4 separate regions of the Homo sapiens genome follow, and all the other regions are linked to region 1. The links come from fine-mapping of genetic effects on gene expression. A gene starts in region 1. Each other region holds a variant in brackets. All regions are shown on one strand. Distances are from middle to middle. Region 1 holds the start of GNS (glucosamine (N-acetyl)-6-sulfatase). Region 2 overlaps GNS (glucosamine (N-acetyl)-6-sulfatase). Region 3 overlaps GNS (glucosamine (N-acetyl)-6-sulfatase). Region 4 overlaps RASSF3 (Ras association domain family member 3).

Region 1 (5,149 bases):
GTTACCGGAAAGGGGTCCTGATCCAGACATCAAGAAAGGGTTCTTGGATCTCGAGCAAGGAAGAATTCAGGACAAGACCATAGAGTAAAGTGAAAGAAAGTTTATTAAGAAAGTAGAGGAATAAAAGAATGGCTACTCCATAGGCAGAGCAGCCCGAGGGCTACTCGTTGCCCATTTTTATGGTTATTTCTTGATGATATGCTAAACAAGGGATGGATTATTCATGCCTCCCCTTTTTAGACCAGAGAGGGTACCTTCCTGACATTCCCATGGCGTTTGTAAACTGTCATGGCGCTGGGTGGGAATTTAGCAGTGAGGACGACCAGAGGTCACTTTCATCACCATCTTGGTTTTGGTGGGTTTTAGTCGGCTTCTTTACTGCTACCTGTTTCATCAGTAAGGTCTTTATGACATGCATCTTGTATCTTGTATCTTTATGACCTCCTATCTCATCCTGTGACTTAGAATGCATAACCATCTGGGAATGCAGCATAGCAGGCCTCAGGCTTATTTTACTCAGCCCCTTTTCAAGATGGAGTTGCTCTGGTTCAATCGCCTCTGACAGCAGCATCCTGAACAAAGTGGGCAACTAATTACACAATTTCTGGCCTCAAATAGTTTATAATCTAACCTTGAAAAAAATAGAAAAGAAACAATTTTACAATTTGGGGCTTCGATACAGATGAAATAGGTTATTTTTTTGTGCAAGAAAGTCTTCCTGGAAGTCTTGAAACCTGAATACAGAAGGATTAGTTATTCTAACCAGCTTGAAAAATTGGCCTAGGCCAAGGCTGTAACCAAGTATTCTGGTTGTCTAGGAACTGCTCTGACCACACTTCCGGCATAATTGTTTCTTGCAGAAAAACTACTTCAGTTTTTTTAAAGCTTCTTTTGCCTTCTGTAGGCTTACTTAAAAAAAAAAAGTATTAAGATCCTTTTGTGGTTCATAAGCCTGATGATTGGGTTTTCATGCTATTGTGTGAGTTACCACCCCTACCTCAAACCTTGTTAGGACTCCGCGCATTACCCCTCTGTGTGAAAAAAACAAAGTAATAAAGGTAATTTTTTTTTTTTTGCATAAGCCCTATCCTTGTACACATCAGGTTTCAACGTGTTTCCATCATTATTTTTACCTTATAGTATAGTGTTTTCACGAGTTTTTTTTTTTAATACTTTAAGTTCTGGAATAGTTTTCACGAGTTTTAAGAGACTCTTCTTGGCAAACAGTTCAACTCAGAGAAAATACTTTTACCAGCAAGGAGGTATACCTTGTTATATCGGTCTGGGGATGTGACTTGACAGTTCACCTTGCCAGGAATATCTCTGTGATTTTTTGTTTGTTTGTTTGTTTTGAGACAAGAGTCTCGCTCTGTCCCTGAGGCCAGAGTGCAGTGGCTCACTGCAAGCTCCGCCTCCCGGGTTCAAGCGATTCTCATGCCTCAGCCTCCCGAGTAGCTGGGATTACAGGCGCCTGCCACCACGCCCAGCTAATTTTTGTATTTTAGTAGAGACGGGGTTTCCCCACGTTGGCCAGGCTGGTCTAAAACTCCTGACCTCAGGTGATCCACCCGCCTCCCAAAGTGCTGGGATTACAAGCGTGAGCCACCGCGCCCACGGTGGGCGGTGAGAGGAGAGGGGCAAAGTCTAATTATTCCAGAGCGACCACAGAAATATCTGGAGCTAGTTTCAAGGGCTATTCCCCGCTAAAGATTACTTAATAATGCAGTTGGATGACCACGTTTCAAGATTTTTGTTCGATCTGCACATCCTCCAACATGTTCCAAGAGGGTGTTTAAAAAGTCACCAAGGACCATTAGGATAACCATTAGGATAAAGCTGTCAGGACATCCCTAAATTGTTTGAAACTACGATGTCTGCTGAGGAAAGAAGAACATAATTAGGCTTTGGAGTTAAGAGAGCTAACCAGTTCCGAATTTAATGTCTGAGCCAAATGAGAATGTTAAGATTTATCTCACAAGTTGTAGAGAAAATTAAAAACGATTAAACATCCGGGCCTTGAATAAGTGCCCGTCGACTTGGGGATTAAATATGGTAGAGTCCACTTTCCTCACCAGCTGATGATAATTTCTGTTATGTACAGTCCTCCTTTCTCTTCCTTTATCGGTTGGTTAGTATTTGCCAACTCTTTCCTGCTTTTCATCTTCTCTTCCCCCCATTTAAATCTTTCCACCAAGCGCTCAGAAACACGTACGTCCTACCAGAACGCAACCCGAGCCTGCGCGAGAGGTACGTACAGGTCTTGACCTTTTCCCGGTTCTCCGCCCTTTTCCCGGTTCTCCGCCCTTTTCTCCGGTTCTCCGCCCTTTTCTCCGGTTCTCCGCCCTTTTCTCCGGTTCTCCGCCCCTTTTCCGCCACTGCCTGATGCCTCCCTCCAGGCTGCGCCAGTCCGCAGCCCCGCCCACGCCGGCCGTCACGTGACCGCGCAGCGTGCTCCGCCCCCTGTCCCTGGCTCACGTGATCGCGCCTAGGGAGAAAACGTCTGACTCCAGCCACCGGCCTTCAAGGCACGGCTTTTTATTCCTTCGGCTGGTCGGCCTCTCGCCCTTCAGCTACCTGTGCGTCCCTCCGTCCCGTCCCGTCCCGGGGTCACCCCGGAGCCTGTCCGCTATGCGGCTCCTGCCTCTAGCCCCAGGTCGGCTCCGGCGGGGCAGCCCCCGCCACCTGCCCTCCTGCAGCCCAGCGCTGCTACTGCTGGTGCTGGGCGGCTGCCTGGGGGTCTTCGGGGTGGCTGCGGGAACCCGGAGGCCCAACGTGGTGCTGCTCCTCACGGACGACCAGGACGAAGTGCTCGGCGGCATGGTAACTCTTCTGTTTCTGCCCCGCCCCTCTATCTCTTGGGCTGACTACCCGGTTTGTTGCTCTCTTTCCCGGTCCCCACCACCCTCCTCCCCGAACTGGCTGTCTTATCCTTGGGTAGGTTTGGTTTTCCCACCTGAGGCCCTTTATGCCGGTGTAAGGGACTGCAATACTCTTTTCCTTTCTGGATTGAGGCACATGCGTACAGCACACAGAGCTTCTAGTCTGGACCGTACTGCTGTGGAGTTTACGTTAATATCTCAAGATAAACATGTGGAGACCAGTGGAGGATGGGTTGAACCAATGAGGATCAGGTGCTGTCTAAGAGCACTCAAGGCCTGATTGTTTTTCTTTTGGATTAGAGGATCACAGACAAGTCCAGTCCCCTTTATGAGGGACCTAGACCACCTCCACGTTTGTGCCTGTATACAATGTCTGTATCTGATGTCAATAAAAATAAGCCTGGGCCGGGCGCGGTGTGTCACTCATGTAATCCCAGCACTTTGGGAGGCCGAGGCGGGCGGATCAGAAGGTCAAGAGATCGAGACCATCCTGGCCAACATGGTGAAACCCCGTCTCTACTAGAAATACAATAATTCTAGCTGGGCGTGGTGGCGCGCAGCTGTAGTCCCAGCTACTTGGGAGGCTGAGGAAGGAGAATCGCTTGAACCCGGGAGGCAGCAGTTGCAGTGAGCCGAGATCGCGCCACTGCATTCCAGCCTGGCGACAGAGCGAGACTCCGTCTCCAAAAAAAAAAAAAAAAAAAAAAAAAAAAAAAGGCCTGAAGTGAACTAATCTGGTAGGCCGACCGTCGAACTATTGAGGGTGTGTGTTGCCTCACAAGAATCAAGAAAATTCAATTAGTGTGATTGAACACCTGACTGTTGCATTAGAGACTGTCAGTGTTTCATTTTCTATCTAATGGGTGTTGTCACAAGACTTCATTTTTTTTCCAGAGTAAATTTTGCTTGTGTATTGCAGAATTATGGAATGTGTGACCTTTGGAAACATCCACTCCAACCCCTTCCCCATGGAGGCCCAGAAAGCAACTTGCCCAAGACATGAGTAGTTGAGGCAGAGTCCTCTGACCCTGGGTTCAGCATTCCTCTCTTCGCTTTAAAACCAAATGCTTTATTGCTTTCTTCGTTTCAGTTCTCTTTTTGCTTTCAGCTGAATGCTGAGACTATGAAATACTCCAGGCAAGACGTTCCTAACTTTTCTTGTGTAGTTACACACCCTAGCTCAGTGTCCTTCAAACCTCTGGTCCCAACCCTTGAGTGAGTTATGAAATCAGTTTAGTGAGTAACTACCAACATTTTTTATTTCCTCTGGAATAGAATAGAATAGAAAAGGTCCATGTGTGTGAGTGTGTGTGTTACACTTGATAAAGGTAATCATTATCTATCTCTCTTTCTTCCCGAGTTGTAAAATATATTTCTTAGGTTGATGCTCAAGAGCTTGAGAGTCTTTTATAGCTGATGTTTTAAGAGGCTTGCATTTTGACTACACATTTCTTCCTGCCATATATGCTTCATTGTCTGTTAGTTTCTACCAAGCCATGTTGACATTGGTCTTAATTTAATTTTCCTCCTACACTTTAGGTTCACTACTCTTCCAACTACTGCACTTACTTGTCTGCTCACAAAATTCCTTTTTTATTAAAAAAAAGAAAATGTGTCCTTGAAGAGTGTTTTGTCCAGAAAAAGCAAGCCTTCTCTAGCAGTGACTTAAGTACTCAGTTAAAAGGTCAGGCTTTTTTAGGTGTTGAAAACAAAATTGATTACTTAAATATAAGGTATTCAGAGTTGTTTCTTCAATTCTTATAAACCACAGCTGTAGTCTGTGTGTATTTGAGGTCTCTTTAGTATGTTAATCCAATTTGCTTCGTTAAGCCAGTAGCAGATTTTTTGAGTCAGGGTCTTGCTCTGTCATCCAGGCTGGAGTGCAGTGGTACAATCAAGGCTCATTGCAGCCTTGAACTCCTAGTCTCAAGCAGTCCTCCTGCCTCAGTCTCCCTAGTAGCTGGAACTACAGGCACATGTCACTACGTCCAGCTAATTTTTAAATATTTTGTAAAGACAGGATTTCTCCATGTTGCCCAAGTCGGTCTTGAACTCCTGGACTCAAGTAACTCTTGAACTCCTGAACTCTTGAACTCCTGGACCTCAGCCTCCCAAAGTGCTGGGATTACAGGCATGAGCCACTGTCTCGGCCCAGATTCTTTTTTTTAATAAGTGTTTCTACTGGAGAGAGGTACCAAAATTGAGTGGAGGGCATAAGTCAAACTTAATGTTCCAAACTCAAGAATTCTGGCTTCTCTTCTAGGCTTTTT
Region 2 (5,149 bases), 28 kb after region 1:
AGTTTGTCTTTTTCAGTCTAGGATGTCCTAGAAAAGAGGAACTATCTAAACTTAAAATATCCAGCCCCTAACATACACTGGGGAACATCCACATTGGTTGAATGGATTTTGCCAAGGTCGCAAAGTAAGTGGCAGATCAGGGACTGAAAATTAAGTCTGTGCATTCTCAGAATTTACATTGCTGCATTGACAGGTGTAATTTGAGAAGCATGAAATGCCCCAGCTTTCCCCTGGCACAAAGAATGTCGGAGACGATGGGTGATGCATCATGTGTTGGCAGCATAGTTGTCTCAGTGCCAGCTGTTCTGTGTGAGTGGCACAGGCTTGTGAGTTGGGCATAATGAGCTGAGCTGTCAGCAGCCTTGACAGCCAGATCAGTGCACATTTAACTGACTGGTGGACTTAAGCTGTGTGGGAGAAATGGGACAAGGTCATATGTGTAGATGTCAAAGATTGACTATTGACGTTTTCTCCTCTGACTAGTTTAGCTTTAGATTTGGTGGTAGAAGTTCTGCAAAAGGAATTCTAAAAAGGAAAAGGTTAGTAGGAAAACTAGAATGACACAGCACCGTCCCAGGGAAATAGAACTGAACTGGGAGTCAGGAAGACGACCTGTTGGCTTTGGACAAAATCAGCCTTGGTTCCCCTACTTTTGTAAAAGTAAGAGGATGTTAAGCCTCCATTATCAGGTGGAACCAGGTGATGCCCCAGCTTCTTCCTTGTCAGGAAAGCTGGAACTGAGGGGCAAGTCCAGCTGAAGCAACCAAGATATGGGATTCTGCACTTTCTCATGTAGTTACAGTGCTTTTCACTAAATGGATTTGGGGTGCTTTCTGGTATGTTTGGAGCCTTTTCTTTGATAACTCTACAGAAATTCAACATCAGGGTTTGGGTGTCTGGAAACCTGATGTGTTCTGAGAGCCCGTTGCCATCTTGTTCTTTTCAGTAATTATGCAAGTGTCATTCTTTCAGAGCAAGAATAAGCAGGTTCAATGCATGATACCCTTTGATTTAAGCCCCAGGAATTTTTTTTTTTTTTTTTTTTTTTTTTTTTTTGAGACAGGGTCTTGCTCTGTAACTTAGGCTGGAGTGTGGTGGCACAATCTTGGCTCACTGCATCCTCCACCTCCCAGGCTCAGGTGATTCTCCTACCTCAGCCTCCTGAGTAGCTGGGACTATAGGTGCACACCACCATGCCCAGCTAATTTTTGTTTTTTGTTTTTTGTTTGTTTGTTTGTTTTTGTAGAGACGGGGTTTCATTATGTTGCCCAGGCTGGTCTGGAACACCTGGGCTCAAGCAATCAGCCCTCCTCCCCTCATTACAGGCATGAGCCACCACAGCCAGTCTACCCCAGGGTTTTCTAAGGACTTTCATTTGATTAGGATATTTATATACTTAAATCCTAAGAACATTCTCAACCTGAGAAAGTGATTTATCAAATAATTTATTTTTTTGTCTGGGCATGGTGGCTCACGCCTGTAATCCTAGCACTTTGGGAGGCCAAGGCAGGTGTGGATCACCTGAGGTCAAGAATTTGAAACCAGCCTGGCCAACATGGTGAAACCTTGTCTCTACTAAAAATACAAAAATTAGGCCAGGCGCGGTGGCTCACGCCTGTAATGCCAGCACTTTGGGAGGCCGAGGCAGGCGGATCAGGAGGTCAGGAGATCGAGACCATCCTGGCTAACACAGTGAAACCCCGTCTCTACTAAAAAATACAAAAAATTAGCCAGGTGTGGTGGCGGGCGCCTATAGTCCCAGTTACTCGGGAGACTGAGGCAGGAGAATGGTGTGAACCCAGGAGGCGGAGCTTGCAGTGAGCCAAGATCACACCACTGCACTCCAGCCTGGGCAACAGAGTGAGACTCCATCTCAAAAAAAAAGAGGCTGGGCGCGGTGGTTCACACCTGTAATCCCAGCACTTTGGGAGGCTGAGTCAGGCGGATCACGAGGTCAGGAGATCGAGGCCATCCTGGCTAAAACGGTGAAACCCCGTCTCTACTGAAAATACAAAAAAAGTAGCTGGGCGTGGTGGCAGGCGCCT[G/A]TAGTCCCAGCTACTTGGGAGGCTGAGGCAGGAGAATGGCATCAAACCGGGAGGCAGAGCTTGCAGTGAGCTGAGATCGTGCTACTGTACTCCAGCCTGGGTGACAGAGTGAGACTCCGTCTCAAAAAAAAAAAAAAAACAACAAAAAAAAAAAATTAGCCAGGTGTGGTGGCAGGTGCCTGTAATCCCAACTACTTGGGAGGCTGAAGCAAGAGTATTGCTTGAACCCAGGAGGTGGAGATTGCAGTGAGCCGAGATCGCACCATTGCACTCCAGCCTGGGCAACAGAGCAAAAAATCTGTCTCAAAAAATAGATATATTTTTGGTCTTGTCAAAGCTTTTTCTGTTCCAATCCGTAAATGATTTTTTTGTTTGTTTGAGATAGGTGCTCTCTCACCAGGTTGGAATGTGGTGGCTCAAACATGGCTCACTGCAGCCTTGGCCTCCTGAGCTCAAGTGATCCTCCTGCCTTGGCCTCCCAAAGTGCTGGGATTACCAGCGAGAGCCACTGTGCCCAGCCCTTAAATGAATTTTTAAGTTTATACTAGACAAAAGCAATACTGTGAAACTAGTGTTTCTCAAAGTCATCACATTGATGGGTGAATCCATCCAAATTCTTGGTTATATAAAAACCAGAGGTAGGTATAATTCTTTTTAACTCTTCATTCATACTTGGTATTTGCTAGAAGTCTCCCATCTCCTGATATAGTATGCTAATTTTGAGACTGTCCGCTTATTCAAATAAAATTCTAGAAGAGGAGACATTTTATCCATTATATTTAGGGGAGTGTGATCATTATAGATTTCTAGGGAGAAGGAGTCCTGGAATGACTTGTGCTTACGGTACTTGTGCTGAATCTTAGTGACTTTGGATTTATACTGGAACTTACCCCTTTATCTCCAGAGAGCAAAATGCCATTAGAAAGAGCCTCGGCTGGGTGCAGTGGCTCACGCCTGTAATCCCAGCACTTTGGGAGGCCAGGGCAGGCGGATCACTTGAATTCAGAAGTTTGAGACCAGCCCAGGCAACATGGCATTGCTACGAAAAATAAAAAAATACAAAATTTAGCTGGGCATCATGGTGTGTACCTGTAGTCCCAGTTGCTCTGGATGCTGAGGCAGGAGGATCAGTTGAGTCTGGGAGGTCAAGGCCACAGTGAGCTGTGATTGTGCCACTGCACTCCAGCTCGGGTGACAAAATGAGACCCTGTCTCAAAAAACAACAAAACAAAAAAGAGCTTCCCCCCACCTCACCAAAAAAGGAACAAGCCTCCCATTATACAGGTGGTGGCTCTTGCAATTTTTGGTGAGATGACAGTCACCATTTTATATCTCTGGGTTTTTTTATGTTTCCTCTTTTCTTTTAAAACTGCCTTGGACATCATAGTAGTATCTGAGGAACTGGCTTCACCTCATTCATTTTACAGATATCACTGAAGATCTGTTAGTCACACTTCAGGGTCTGTAGATGGCTTGTTGTCTTGATCTCATTCTGGAGATGGTATCTCTCTCTGACCCTCCTTTCCTGCTGTGACCTCTTCCATATTGACATTCACACTTGATGACTGTTTTCCAAGCTGCTCAGTTTGCCTGGGGGTCTTCGAACCAGGAAAATTATCTGTAACAGTGGGTCTTGTATCATCCCTGGAGACATCGTTTTTTGTGTGTGAGGTTTTTCCCCCACTGAGTAACATATGGATTGCCTTTCTCCTGAAGTGCCTGCCTTTGGGCAGTAATACCTGACAGCTGCAGAGTTAGACTAATTGATTCAGGGCCAGGATATTTATCATTCTGCCCTCTAAGAGCTGTCCTGGCCATCAGGAAACCTGGCCCCTGATAATATTCTGAAGCTTTTTTTTTTTTTTTTTTTTTTTGCCTTTCATATCTGTACTTTTGGTTTTGTTTTTAAATTAAAAGTGGCAGGGCTGGGGTGTTTTTGTTTTGTTTTATCTCCCTGTTTGGCCTCTCCTAAGATGATCTAAATGTTCTCAACAGTTTTGAAGACTGTTACTTCCTGTCAGTAAGTAATGGCTTTTCCAGTTATAAGCTGATAACTTTGCTTCAGTGATTTGTGTTTCATTTCTTCACCTATAAACACTGTGTCCAAGGACTGTGATGAGGAATAAATGAGAATAAATGTCAAATGCCTGGCACAGTAAACTTTAGTTCCCAGTTTTTCTCACTTCCTCTTTGTTTCGCTCAATGGATTGTTTCAGTGCTTGAAGATTTTTCTAGCCTGTGACCAAGTGACTTCTATGCTTACATTCTCTCTAGGCCTGCATTATCCACTTGTGGCTGTCGAGCACTTGAAATGTGGATAGTCCAAATGGAGATGTATTATTATTGTGAAATACCAGATTTCAAAGGCTTGGTTCACAAAAAGTTAAATCTCATTGATTTTTTAAAAAATATTGTTTACATGTTGAAATATTAATATTCAGATATTTTTATAGGAGGTTAAAATATATACAGTTTTACCTGTTTTTATTAATGTGGTTATTGGACAATTTTTAATTACATATGGGGTCCCCTTTATATTTCCATTAGGCTACTCTGGATTAGGCCCTGTAGAGGCATTGTCTTACAGAAGGAAAATAGTCTAATAACCAAGGAAATAAGTCAAAGTATAAATACAGGACAATGCCTTTAGTTTCTAGAATGTTTAAAAACATCTAAGTCTTTTGCTCTTAAAAAAACTTTTATTGCTACATTTTTGGAATAAATTTTCTGCAGCCTTCACAGCCTGTTGCAAACATATTTTGGCAGTGTTGTCCCTTTGAGAAGCTATAAAAAGAGCTAATAATTCTCACTGATGGGAAGCATTCCTTTTTTGAGGCCTTCCAAAATGTCTGGAGTTCATTTGAAATCAAACTTAGTTAATCTGAATAATCAAGTTGTAAGACACTTTGTATAAAATAATTAGACCAACATTTTTCTCATGATTCGCAACAAACTCAAAGCAGTCCCAAAGGAGTTTTCAAAAAACATTTTGATCAATAACAGAATGGGTAGAATAAATATGTAACTTGCCAGGGGGATATACTATTATACAAGCCTTATAAGCCTTTATATTTTGTTTGAAGTTATTATAGTTATATTTGGAT
Region 3 (5,149 bases), 44 kb after region 1:
GTTGGGACAGAGACTGTATGGCTCCCATACCCTAAAATATTTATTATCTGGCCCTTTACAAAAAATCTTGGTCAATTGCAGTTCTAAAATGCAGTAGTCCCCCCTTATCCACAGAGGATCTATTCCAGAACCCACAGTGGATGCGTGAAGCCCCAAGGATAGTGCCAGGCCCAGTTGCCATCAGTTGGAAGATGTTTCTGTTCATGTCTTCTACCCACAAATTTTATGCCTTTTCCATCTTAACTAAGCTTTTGTCATGCACTGTGGCCCTAACTTTTGCAGTTTAAGGTGTGGCAGCAAAACTAGAATTCGTTTTTCCTTCTTCATGATTTCACAGATAGAAGATTCATTCCTGGCTGGGCGCGGTGGCTCACATTTGTAATCCCAGCACTTCGGGAGACCAAGGCGGGCAGATCACATGAGCCCAGGAGTTCTAGACCAGCCTGGGCAACATGGTGAAACTCTTGTCTCTACAAAAAAAAAAAAAAAAAAAAAAAATTAGCCAGGTGTGGTGGCGCACGCCAGTGTTCCCAGCTACTCTGGAGGCTTAAGACAGGAGAATCACTTGAGCCGGAGAGGTGGAGGTTGCAGTGAGCTGAAATTGTGCCACTGCACTCCAGCCTGGGCGACAGACTGACTCTGTCCCCCTGCCAGCGCCCCCACCAAAAATGACTCATGTTTATGGTGAGGCTCTTGTAGGTCTTAGCAGTCTTGCTGTATGATTTTTTTCTTTCCTTATTAAGTCAAGAGCGTTCACTTTTTCACTTAAAGGAAGCACTTTATGGCTTCTCTTTGGCATTTCTGAATTGGCAGCACCACTACTCTTGTGGTTTGGAGCCATTGTTAAATAAAATCAGGGTGACTTGAACACAAGCACTGTAATAATGTAACAGTTGATCCACCCCTACTCCCTCAAAAGAAAAAAATCTCAAATCTTGCTGCCTTCTGACACCTTTCAAGACTAACCTACTTGTTTTTCTCCTCTTGACTTGCACTGTGTGACTTTGTGTGTGCTGACTGGTGATAGAAATGTTCGGAACTGTCGAGGGCTCATGTTTTGTACCATAGACTTTCTCACTAGAGTCCCTTCTGGTGATTTGTTTCTTTTACACCCCTTCCTGCTATCCTTTCCACTGAATAATATTCTGAGTGAGAAGCTAGTGAGAGCTAATGTTACATTTGGTTTTTCCTCCCCAGATACAGGTTTGACCCCCGTCTCATGTTCAGCAATCGCGGCAGTGTCAGGACTCGAAGATTTTCCAAACATCTTCTGTAGCGACCTCACACAGCCTCTGCAGATGGATCCCTGCACGCCTCTTTCTGATGAAGTGATTGTAGTAGGTGTCTGTAGCTAGTCTTCAAGACCACACCTGGAAGAGTTTCTGGGCTGGCTTTAAGTCCTGTTTGAAAAAGCAACCCAGTCAGCTGACTTCCTCGTGCAATGTGTTAAACTGTGAACTCTGCCCATGTGTCAGGAGTGGCTGTCTCTGGTCTCTTCCTTTAGCTGACAAGGACACTCCTGAGGTCTTTGTTCTCACTGTATTCTTTTTATCCTGGGGCCACAGTTCTTGATTATTCCTCTTGTGGTTAAAGACTGAATTTGTAAACCCATTCAGATAAATGGCAGTACTTTAGGACACACACAAACACACAGACACACCTTTTGATATGTAAGCTTGACCTAAAGTCAAAGGACCTGTGTAGCATTTCAGATTGAGCACTTCACTATCAAAAATACTAACATCACATGGCTTGAAGAGTAACCATCAGAGCTGAATCATCCAAGTAAGAACAAGTACCATTGTTGATTGATAAGTAGAGATACATTTTTTATGATGTTCATCACAGTGTGGTAAGGTTGCAAATTCAAAACATGTCACCCAAGCTCTGTTCATGTTTTTGTGAATTCTAGGCTGGTGCTGCACTGAAATAGAGCAGTAAGCTTGTGATAAAGGCCAATTCCAGGTAGCTCTTGAAGGTGATAGCCATCTACTTTCCAGTGGCTGCCAACCACAGGGAGTGCCAGTTAACACTGGAAGGATTAAGGCAAGGTCCCTTCTCTTGAGACTCCCCTCTGAGATCTGAAAAATGAAGTGGCTTAGGAACATCAGCAGTGAAGAACTGCCAAGAGTTGGTGAAGGTTGTCTCTTCCGAGGGCCTTCTGAAGACAGGGCTCTTGAACAGACAAGTGGAAGGGCTGTACCAGGGATAAAGGAAAGAAGTGCCTGTCCAGCAGGGAGCTTGAATTTAAGTTCCATGTATGAAGTCATTGGCTCTATCTGCATTTTTCTGTCATTCTCTTCATTTGTTTTAAGGTGGAAAATTTTCTTACAGTTGATGCAAAGTATCAACTACTTTACCCTACCTTCTCCCCTTTTAGATGGGTTCTTCCTGAGTTTTGGAGTCTTGTATGATTATCAGTATTCCCCTGTCAAAATCAAATCTATTCAGGTTTCTTCACTGTTGAGAACACCTAAATGTTTTTATTTTTGAGAAGTGGGGACAGAGTCTCACTATGTCACCCAGGCTGGAGTGCAATGGCATGATCTCAGCTCACTGCAACCTTCGCCTCCTGGGTTCAAGCGATTCTCCTGCCTCCGCCTCCTGAGTAGCTGGGATTATAGGCACGCACCACCACGCCCAGCTAATTTTTTGTATTTTTAGTAGAGACAGAGTTTCACCATGTTGGCCAGGCTGGTCTTGAACTCCTGACCTTGTGATCCACCCACCT[C/T]GGCCTCCCAGAGTGCTGGGATTACAGGCATGAGCCACCACGCTTGGCTAAGAACACCTAAATTTTTATGTTTCTTGGCTCAAAAACCAGTTCCATTTCTAATGTTGTCCTCACAAGAAGGCTAATTGGTGGTGAGACAGCAGGGGAGGAGGAAGAGCTGTGGTTTGTAACTTGTTCAACTCAGGCAATAAGCGATTTTAGCTTTATTTAAAGTCTTCTGTCCAGCTTTAAGCACTTTGTAAGACATGGCTGAAAGTAGCTTTTCTATCAGAATTGCAGATAGTCATGTTGGGCTAACAGTCAATTGGATATATTCCTTTACCTCACATGACCCCAGCAACTGTGGTGGTATCTAGAGGTGAAACAGGCAAGTGAAATGGACACCTCTGCTGTGAATGTTTTAGAGAAGGAAATTCAAAAAATGTTGTAACTGAAAGCACTGTTGAATATGGGTATCGGCTTTCTTTTTCACTTTGACTCTTAACATTATCAGTCAACTTCCACATTAATGAAAGTTGACCATAGTTATTTCCAAATAAAAAGAAACCAACTCTTACCAGGTCTTGGACTGTGATGTCATATTATTCAGTTTTATGCTTGTTCCTGAGCAGAACTCATAAGAGTGACATAGTCAGCTGCTGACGGCACCTCAGCCACGCCACTCTTACTCAGTTCAGTGGGTGTGCTTGCGTGGTAGGATGTGGTGCAGCCCTCTCTACGCTCTTCTATTTTTGGTATATTTCCTATCTAACCTTCAAATAGCTTCCAATTCTTTTTTTCTTGGACTGGCTTCATTCTGAATTTGTGCTAAAATAATCTTTCATAAAGAGACCTCAGTTTATAGCGTAACAGACTACACAATGCACTGATGTTTTCATAATGTTTAAGGGACCCACTGCAAGAAGCTTGCTGCCTCCTTTTAATTGTATTCATTTAGATTTTGATTTTCCATGTTAAGAAGGTGAGGTCCATGTTGGTGCCCTTCAGAGTAGAGAACCATGTAAACATTAGGAATGAACAGAGGCCTTAGGAATGAATAGAGAGTTTGCCTTATACAATTTCCTGTTACAAAGCTCTCCCTCTCATGCAAAGTAGGGAACACCTTTTGAGCATCTTTGAATTTGACAAATGGTGCTGTTGCAAACACTTTTTTTTTGAGATGAAGTCTCGCGGTTGTCACCCGGGCTGGAGTGCAGTGGCGTGATCTCGGCTCACTGCAACTTCCACCTCCTGGGTTCCAGCAGTTCTCCTGCCTCAGCCTCCCAAGTAGCTGAGATTACAGGCGCCTGCCACCCCACCTGGCTGATTTTTGTAATTTTAGTAGAGACGGGGTTTCACCATGTTGGCCAGGCTGATTAACTCCTGACCTCAGGTGATCCACCTTTCTCGGCCTCCCAAAGTGCTGGGATTACGGGTGTGAGCCACCGTGCCCGGCCTGCAAACACATTTTAATTGACAACACTAGGGCTGTTGTACAAAATAGTAATGATAGCCATGGAAGTTTTACCTTATTCTGTGAGAAGTGTTCTTAAACTTATTAAGTGTCTAAACTAAGGTTTAGTGCTTTTTTAAAGGAAAGTTGTCCCAGGATTCATCCTAAAGAAAGCAAAAGTTAATTCAACTGATCCACCAATGGAATTAGATGGGTAGAGTTGGGTTCTTGAGTTTTACCACCACTTAGTTCCCACTGAATTTTGTAACTTCCTGTGTTTGCATCCTCTGTTCCTATTCTGCCCTTGCTCTGTGTCATCTCAGTCATTTGACTTAGAAAGTGCCCTTCAAAAGGACCCTGTTCACTGCTGCACTTTTCAATGAATTAAAATTTATTTCTGTTCTAGTGGGAATGTGTCCTTTGTTTTAGTTCACAAGTAGTAATTTTGACAAGATGCTTTCTTCTGATGCAGTTTGTTTTAATCACTCACCTAGTACTGGAAATGGGCTTTCTAGTCAGATCCTATAGTCTCTACCTGTATAGCTCTTACATACATGGCCCCTACTGATAACCCCTGAATGAAGCACCATGTAGAAAATATTTCCTGATAAATCTGTATGTATTTACAGCTTTGGAGAAAAAGTCTTATCTTGGCTGGCTTTCAAACAGACTAGGCTCGCCTTCAAAGGTGCTTTGCCATGTGATCCATTGCTCTAGATGAGGAATGACTTCTTACGGGGTCAACAAACTTCTTATAGGGATAGACGGCCAGTATTTTAGGCTGCCAGGCCATGTGTTCACTGTCACAGCTATTTACCTCTGCTGTTATAACACAAAAGTAGCCATAGAAAATGGATAAGTGTGTGGCTGTGTTCCAATACAATTTTATTTTCAAAAACAAGTAGGTCATAATTTGCCAACCCCAGAGCTTATAGGTTGCCTCATATCTTAGCAATTCTGAAGACCACATAGAAAACAATGCTAGA
Region 4 (5,149 bases), 62 kb after region 1:
CTCTTAAGCCCAGGAGGTTAAGGCTGCAGTGAGCCGTAATCACGCCACTACATTCCAGCCTGGATGACAAGGTGAAACCCCATCCGAAAAAATAAAAAGAAAGCACAGGTCAGCATTTCATTCTATGTGACTTAGTATAATCACCTGAATGAAATGATAAATGAACCAAAATGGATGAGAACACACTGATATCAACAAACCCCAATGGCACCAAAACAGTTACGCTTCTGGGCAAACTGTCCATTACGGCAATTTAACAGACTTTTGCTCCTTTACTCAATAGGCAATTTAACTGAGAAACTAGAGAGCACTTACAGGAAAAGATGGTAGAGAAACGGGGCAGTGTCCGGCTCTGCCACTCACTCACACAGTGGCCTTGAGCAAGCTGCTAAACCTCAACATGTCCATTTCCACATTTGTGAAAAAAGGGATATGACGAAATAGTGTGATAACGTCACAGGAGAGTCAATGAGTTGATACATATTAAGCATTTCAGAAGAATGCCTAGCACATGGTAAGCACTTTGTTGGCATTGGCTACTATAGTGTAGACCTTCACCACCACCCTTTTTTTTTTTTTTTTTTTTTTTGAGATAGAGTCTTGCTCTGTTGCCCAGGCTGGAGTACAGTGGCGCAATCATGGCTCACTGCAGTACTCACGGCTCACTGGAGTACAGTGGCGCAATCACGGGGCTTGAACCCCGCCTCCCGGGTTCAAGCAATTCTCCTGCCTCAGCCTCTTGAGTAGCTGAGACAGCAGTCGTGTGCCACCACGCCTGGCTAATTTTTATATTTTTAGCAGAGAAGAGGTTTTGCCATGTTGGCCAACCTGGTCTTGAACTCCTGGCCTCAAGAGATCAGCCCGCCTTGGCCTCCCAGAGTGCTGGGATTACAGGCATGAGCCACTGTGCCTGGCCCCTTTTCTTTTTTTTTTTTTTTGAGACGGAGTTTCACTTTGTCGCCCAGGCTAAGTGCAATGGGGCGATCTCGGCTCACTGCAACCTCCGCCTCCCTGGCTCAAGCAATTCTCCTGCCTCAGCCTCCTGAGTAGCTGGGATTACAGGTGTGCGCCACCACGCCCAGCTAATTTTTGTATTTTTAGTAGAAACGGGGTTTCACCATGTTTGGTCAGGCTGGTCTCAAACTCCTGACCTCATGATCTGCCCACCTCGGCCTCCCAAAATGCTGGGATTACAGGCATGAGCCACCGCGCCCAGCCCCCTTCTTTCAATAAAACAAAATACCTAATTAGCGTTATCTGACAGTGTCTCCGAATTTGTCACCAACTGATAACTGTTGTTTCAATAAATATTCATGTGAGCCAGGCACGGTGGCTCACACCTGTAATCCCAGCACTCTGGGAGGCCAAGGCCGGCAGATTACCTGAGGTCAGGAGTTTGAGACCACCTTGGCCAACAGGGTGAAACCCCGTCTTTACTAAAAATACAAAAATTAGCCAGGTGTGGTGGCACACGCCTGTAATCCCATCTACTCCAGAGGCTGAGGCAGGACAATTGCTTGAACCTAGGAGGTAGAGGTTGCAGTGAGCCCAGATCGTGCCACTGCACTCCAGCCTGGGAGACAGAGTGAAACTCTATCTCAAAAAAAAAGGTTTTTTTTTAGTAATAAAAATTGACTTAAAAAAAAAAGTCCTACCTGTAATCCCAGCACTTTGGGAGGCTGAGGTGTGTTGGTCACTTGAGGTCAGGAGTTTGAGACCAGCCTAGCCAACGTGGAGAAACCCCGTCGCTACTAAAAATACAAAAAAAAAAATTAGTCGGGTATGGTGGCAGGCACCTGTAATCCCAGCTACTAGGGAGGCTGAGGCAGGAGAATCGCTTGAACCTGGGAGGTGGAGGTTACAGTGAGCCAAGATCATGCCACTGCACTCTAGCCTGGGTGGCACATTGAGACTCCATCTCCAAAAAAAATAAAGGATAAAAATATAAAAATTCCCAAACATTCTCCACGCACCTTGGGTAGTAACCCAAGTAGAACCCCCAAACCTGATTCCTCTGAATATTTCAGTAGAAAAGCAAAATTATACAGAGCCATAATTTTCTATCACAGTATTTTTATTTAGGGAGCAGCTATGGTACGTGAAAGGCCTCTACCACCTGGTGCCAGCCTTGCTCCTTTCATCAGCCCCTCCAGGGGGCAGTGTAGTAGTAAAAACACTCCCAACAGCAGGCATGGAAGCTGAAACCATGGCACAAAGCCGAGGTGCAGGTGCGCAGAGGGTGGCACTCCATCGTCCCTGTGGTTCCCCAGACACTATCCATCCCATCTGTGTAAGGCAGTCATGGTGACCAAAAAAATACAAATACTCACTTTATGTTGAAGTGGTATGTTTCAGGGGTAGGAGACCTCAGGGCAAGAACAGGGGTGGAGGGAGAGATTTCTAAAGAACTGACAAGGTTCTATTTTAGTAATGGTCAGGGGGTGTCCATTTTATATAATAATCCTTTAAACTGTTCGCATGCTTTTTTATTTTTATTTTTTCACTCTCGGCCTCCCTCCTCTTTTGCATGCTTTATATACTTTTAAATGTGTATATTTCAAAAATTAAAACAATTGTTTTAAATACATTGGAATATGCTGTGTGAGCTTAGGGTTATTTTTCCTCAGAGGATAAGGCAAAGAGAAAATGATATCTGGGAGAACAAATATGACCCACGCGAACCTAGTAAAGTTGTTGCATTCCAGCATGTGTCCCTGTGTATATGTGCAAAAGCAGCTCAGCGCACTCCTGTGACCTTTTTAAATCTAGCATATTATCATAAATAAACACACATAAACAACTAATAACTTCAATTTTTAATAATGGAAACA[A/C]TTTTGCCATTCTAGAAACTATTTTAGGGGAGAAAAATCTTCCCTACAAAAATAAACTTAAACCCATCAAAATTATAAATATTATAACTTTTTACTTCTGCCATTTAAAATGCTCTCCTGCAATACCACCCCTTCATTTAACATCCTTCCTGTACCATCACATATTGAAGAGAAAACAGTATTACAGCAAAGCTTAGATAGTTTAACATAATGATTTGTACAATGATTCTTAAAAAATCTTTGGCCTTAGTGGCCTTTTTTCTTCACTTACACATTAAAAATGCTGCTGCAGTAACCAGTGTTTGGGAAAGGACATCAGTCTTCAAGAACCATAAACTGACAGAATTTCAATACAGTAGGTTTCCAAATTGCAATTTGTAGTGCACATGACAGTAAGCGAGGTTTTGGGTAAATATAGATGAGGATGCCTATTCAGACAATCTACTTCAAGTAAAAAAAAAAAAAAAAAAAAAATTCACAGATACCCATCAGCTACTACTTTAGGTTCTAACAGTGTCTTAATCTGAGAAACAAATGCTTCACAAAATATAAGTTTACTGGGATGAATAATTAAAAAACCAGGTGGTAATAACAATATACTCAAATCCAGGCCATAGTCTGAATAATAAAACCAGTACAAAAAATCACGAAGGCATTCCCTGAACAATAAAGGTAAAGTGTTGGATGACAATGTCACTAAAACCTCATCAATGTACAAAAGAGAAGTTACATGCAAAATTAAACAAGATGTGCCATACATATTTTATAGCTAATTCTATTTTTTTCAACTTTCCTTAAATGCTTAGGAAGATATGATTGTCTCAGTAAATTGTGTGGCACAGCATAACAACTTAAGTCTGCCTCCAACAAGATGGGTATTCTCCAAAAAGTCAGAAGAGCCACCAAGAGACGAACAGAAATGCAATAAAAGGCACAGTTCACTTGGGCAAAGAACTGAAGCACCTTGGAATTTCAAAAAGAATCCATTAGGTGTCACCAAAGTGTTAACAATTCCTTGGGAATTTATAAACAAAAAATATCTAGACTAAAAATAGAATATAAGGCCCCTCTGGAACCACTGCACACCTTTCCCTCTGTTCTCAGATTAAACTGCTGCATAAAATGAGGTTATTTAGCCTGTTTTTAAGGAAGGCTTCTATTGCACATGCATCTCTTTGGTTGGTAATAACATGTACTTTTGTTAAAATATTTCCATAATGAAGCCCTGTTGTGTGGTTAGCTGGGTGTGGACTTTCCTCCCTTTCTTGGGGGCCCTCCTACTCACAGTCAAGTTGCCCTTTAGAACTAAAGATCTGGTAGGATTGGGTCTTTATTCAATAGCCCTGTTCTCTATTATGTAAGAACAGATTTCAATGTAGAAAAGAAAGGGAGAGGGAGAGAGAGGGAGGGAAGGAGGGAGGGAGGGAGGGAGGGAGGGAGGGAGGGAGGAAAAGAACAAGGTAGGGTGGGAGACAGCAGGGAAGGAAAGAAAAAAGGGAAGAAAGGAAAAGGAAAGGAGGAATAAAAGGGAAGAGAGTGATTGTCACCAAAGTTTACTTGACAAATATCCTAGCTAACAATCAAGGGAAAAACAGCTGCCCCTACCCAAATTCCGTCTCAACTTTGAAAACCACCTGTGGGGGGAAAGCTATACACTATGTAACTTAACAAGAGTTAGTGAACTGTCACTGTCCTGCCTATGCAGAGCAGCTACACCAATCAGACCTTCCACTCCAAAAGGGCAGAATTAAAGGGTCGGATCCAGCTGCGTGAGGCCCACCTCTGCCCAGGTCAGTAGGCTACACCTGCCTGATTCTCTGATTGGTCAGCTGCAGAGTTCATGGGTCCCTCCTTTTGGTTTAGCTCCTGCCTCTGGCTCTGTTCCCATATTCTACCCACCAGGAAACCAAGCGATCCTAAAATGGGTTTAACACCTCCACACTGAATGCTTTTAACTCGTTTACAAGCAACTACCCCTTTCTCCACTACCCCTAACTGAAAAGCCAAGTCACCTTCCATAGCCCGCAGCACTCGCCACCACCGCACATGCCTTCTTCCAAACTTACACTTTGCTTTCTCTGTCAACCCCCTAACAAAATCCTTCACAATAAATTCCTCAGAGTTCCTAGATTCCTGTGCCTTTCGATTCACATGGATAGATTCCTCTGACATTAAAAAAAGAAAACAAAACCAAACAAAAAACCAGACAGGTAGTTTCAAAATAGGACAAGTATTCAGAAAGATTCCTAGTTAAGCTTTTTAAAAAATCAACTGCATATCTGTAAGCTTAACAGCATCATCACATAATTAAAATAACC

Evidence for each region. PIP is the estimated chance that this variant, and not a neighbour inherited with it, causes the effect.
Region 2: its variant is fine-mapped to the expression of GNS in tibial nerve (GTEx, PIP 0.94).
Region 3: its variant is fine-mapped to the expression of GNS in whole blood (TOPMed, PIP above 0.99).
Region 4: its variant is fine-mapped to the expression of GNS in whole blood (TOPMed, PIP above 0.99).

The regions. Positions count from the first base shown.
Region 1 is chr12:64,756,756-64,761,904 of GRCh38, reverse strand. GNS (glucosamine (N-acetyl)-6-sulfatase) reads left to right here and starts at 2,499. Exons shown (of 14, transcript NM_002076.4): 1 at 2,499-2,820. The coding sequence starts at 2,629. It overlaps LOC124903113 (small nucleolar RNA U13), which reads left to right and starts at 932; the gene lies at 932-1,037. It also overlaps a transcript of TBC1D30 not described here. RefSeq lists an enhancer at 3,073-3,953.
Region 2 is chr12:64,729,205-64,734,353 of GRCh38, reverse strand. The region is part of intron 9 of GNS (glucosamine (N-acetyl)-6-sulfatase); the gene reads left to right. Among named protein-coding and RNA genes, the nearest start is that of GNS, 28 kb to the left of the region's middle. The variant G/A (reference allele first, on the strand shown) is at 2,046.
Region 3 is chr12:64,712,868-64,718,016 of GRCh38, reverse strand. It overlaps GNS (glucosamine (N-acetyl)-6-sulfatase), which reads left to right. Exons shown (of 14, transcript NM_002076.4): 14 at 1,198-4,568. The coding sequence ends at 1,276. Among named protein-coding and RNA genes, the nearest start is that of GNS, 44 kb to the left of the region's middle. The variant C/T (reference allele first, on the strand shown) is at 2,732.
Region 4 is chr12:64,695,217-64,700,365 of GRCh38, reverse strand. RASSF3 (Ras association domain family member 3) reads right to left here. Exons shown (of 5, transcript NM_178169.4): 5 at 2,802-5,149. Among named protein-coding and RNA genes, the nearest start is that of GNS, 62 kb to the left of the region's middle. The variant A/C (reference allele first, on the strand shown) is at 2,832.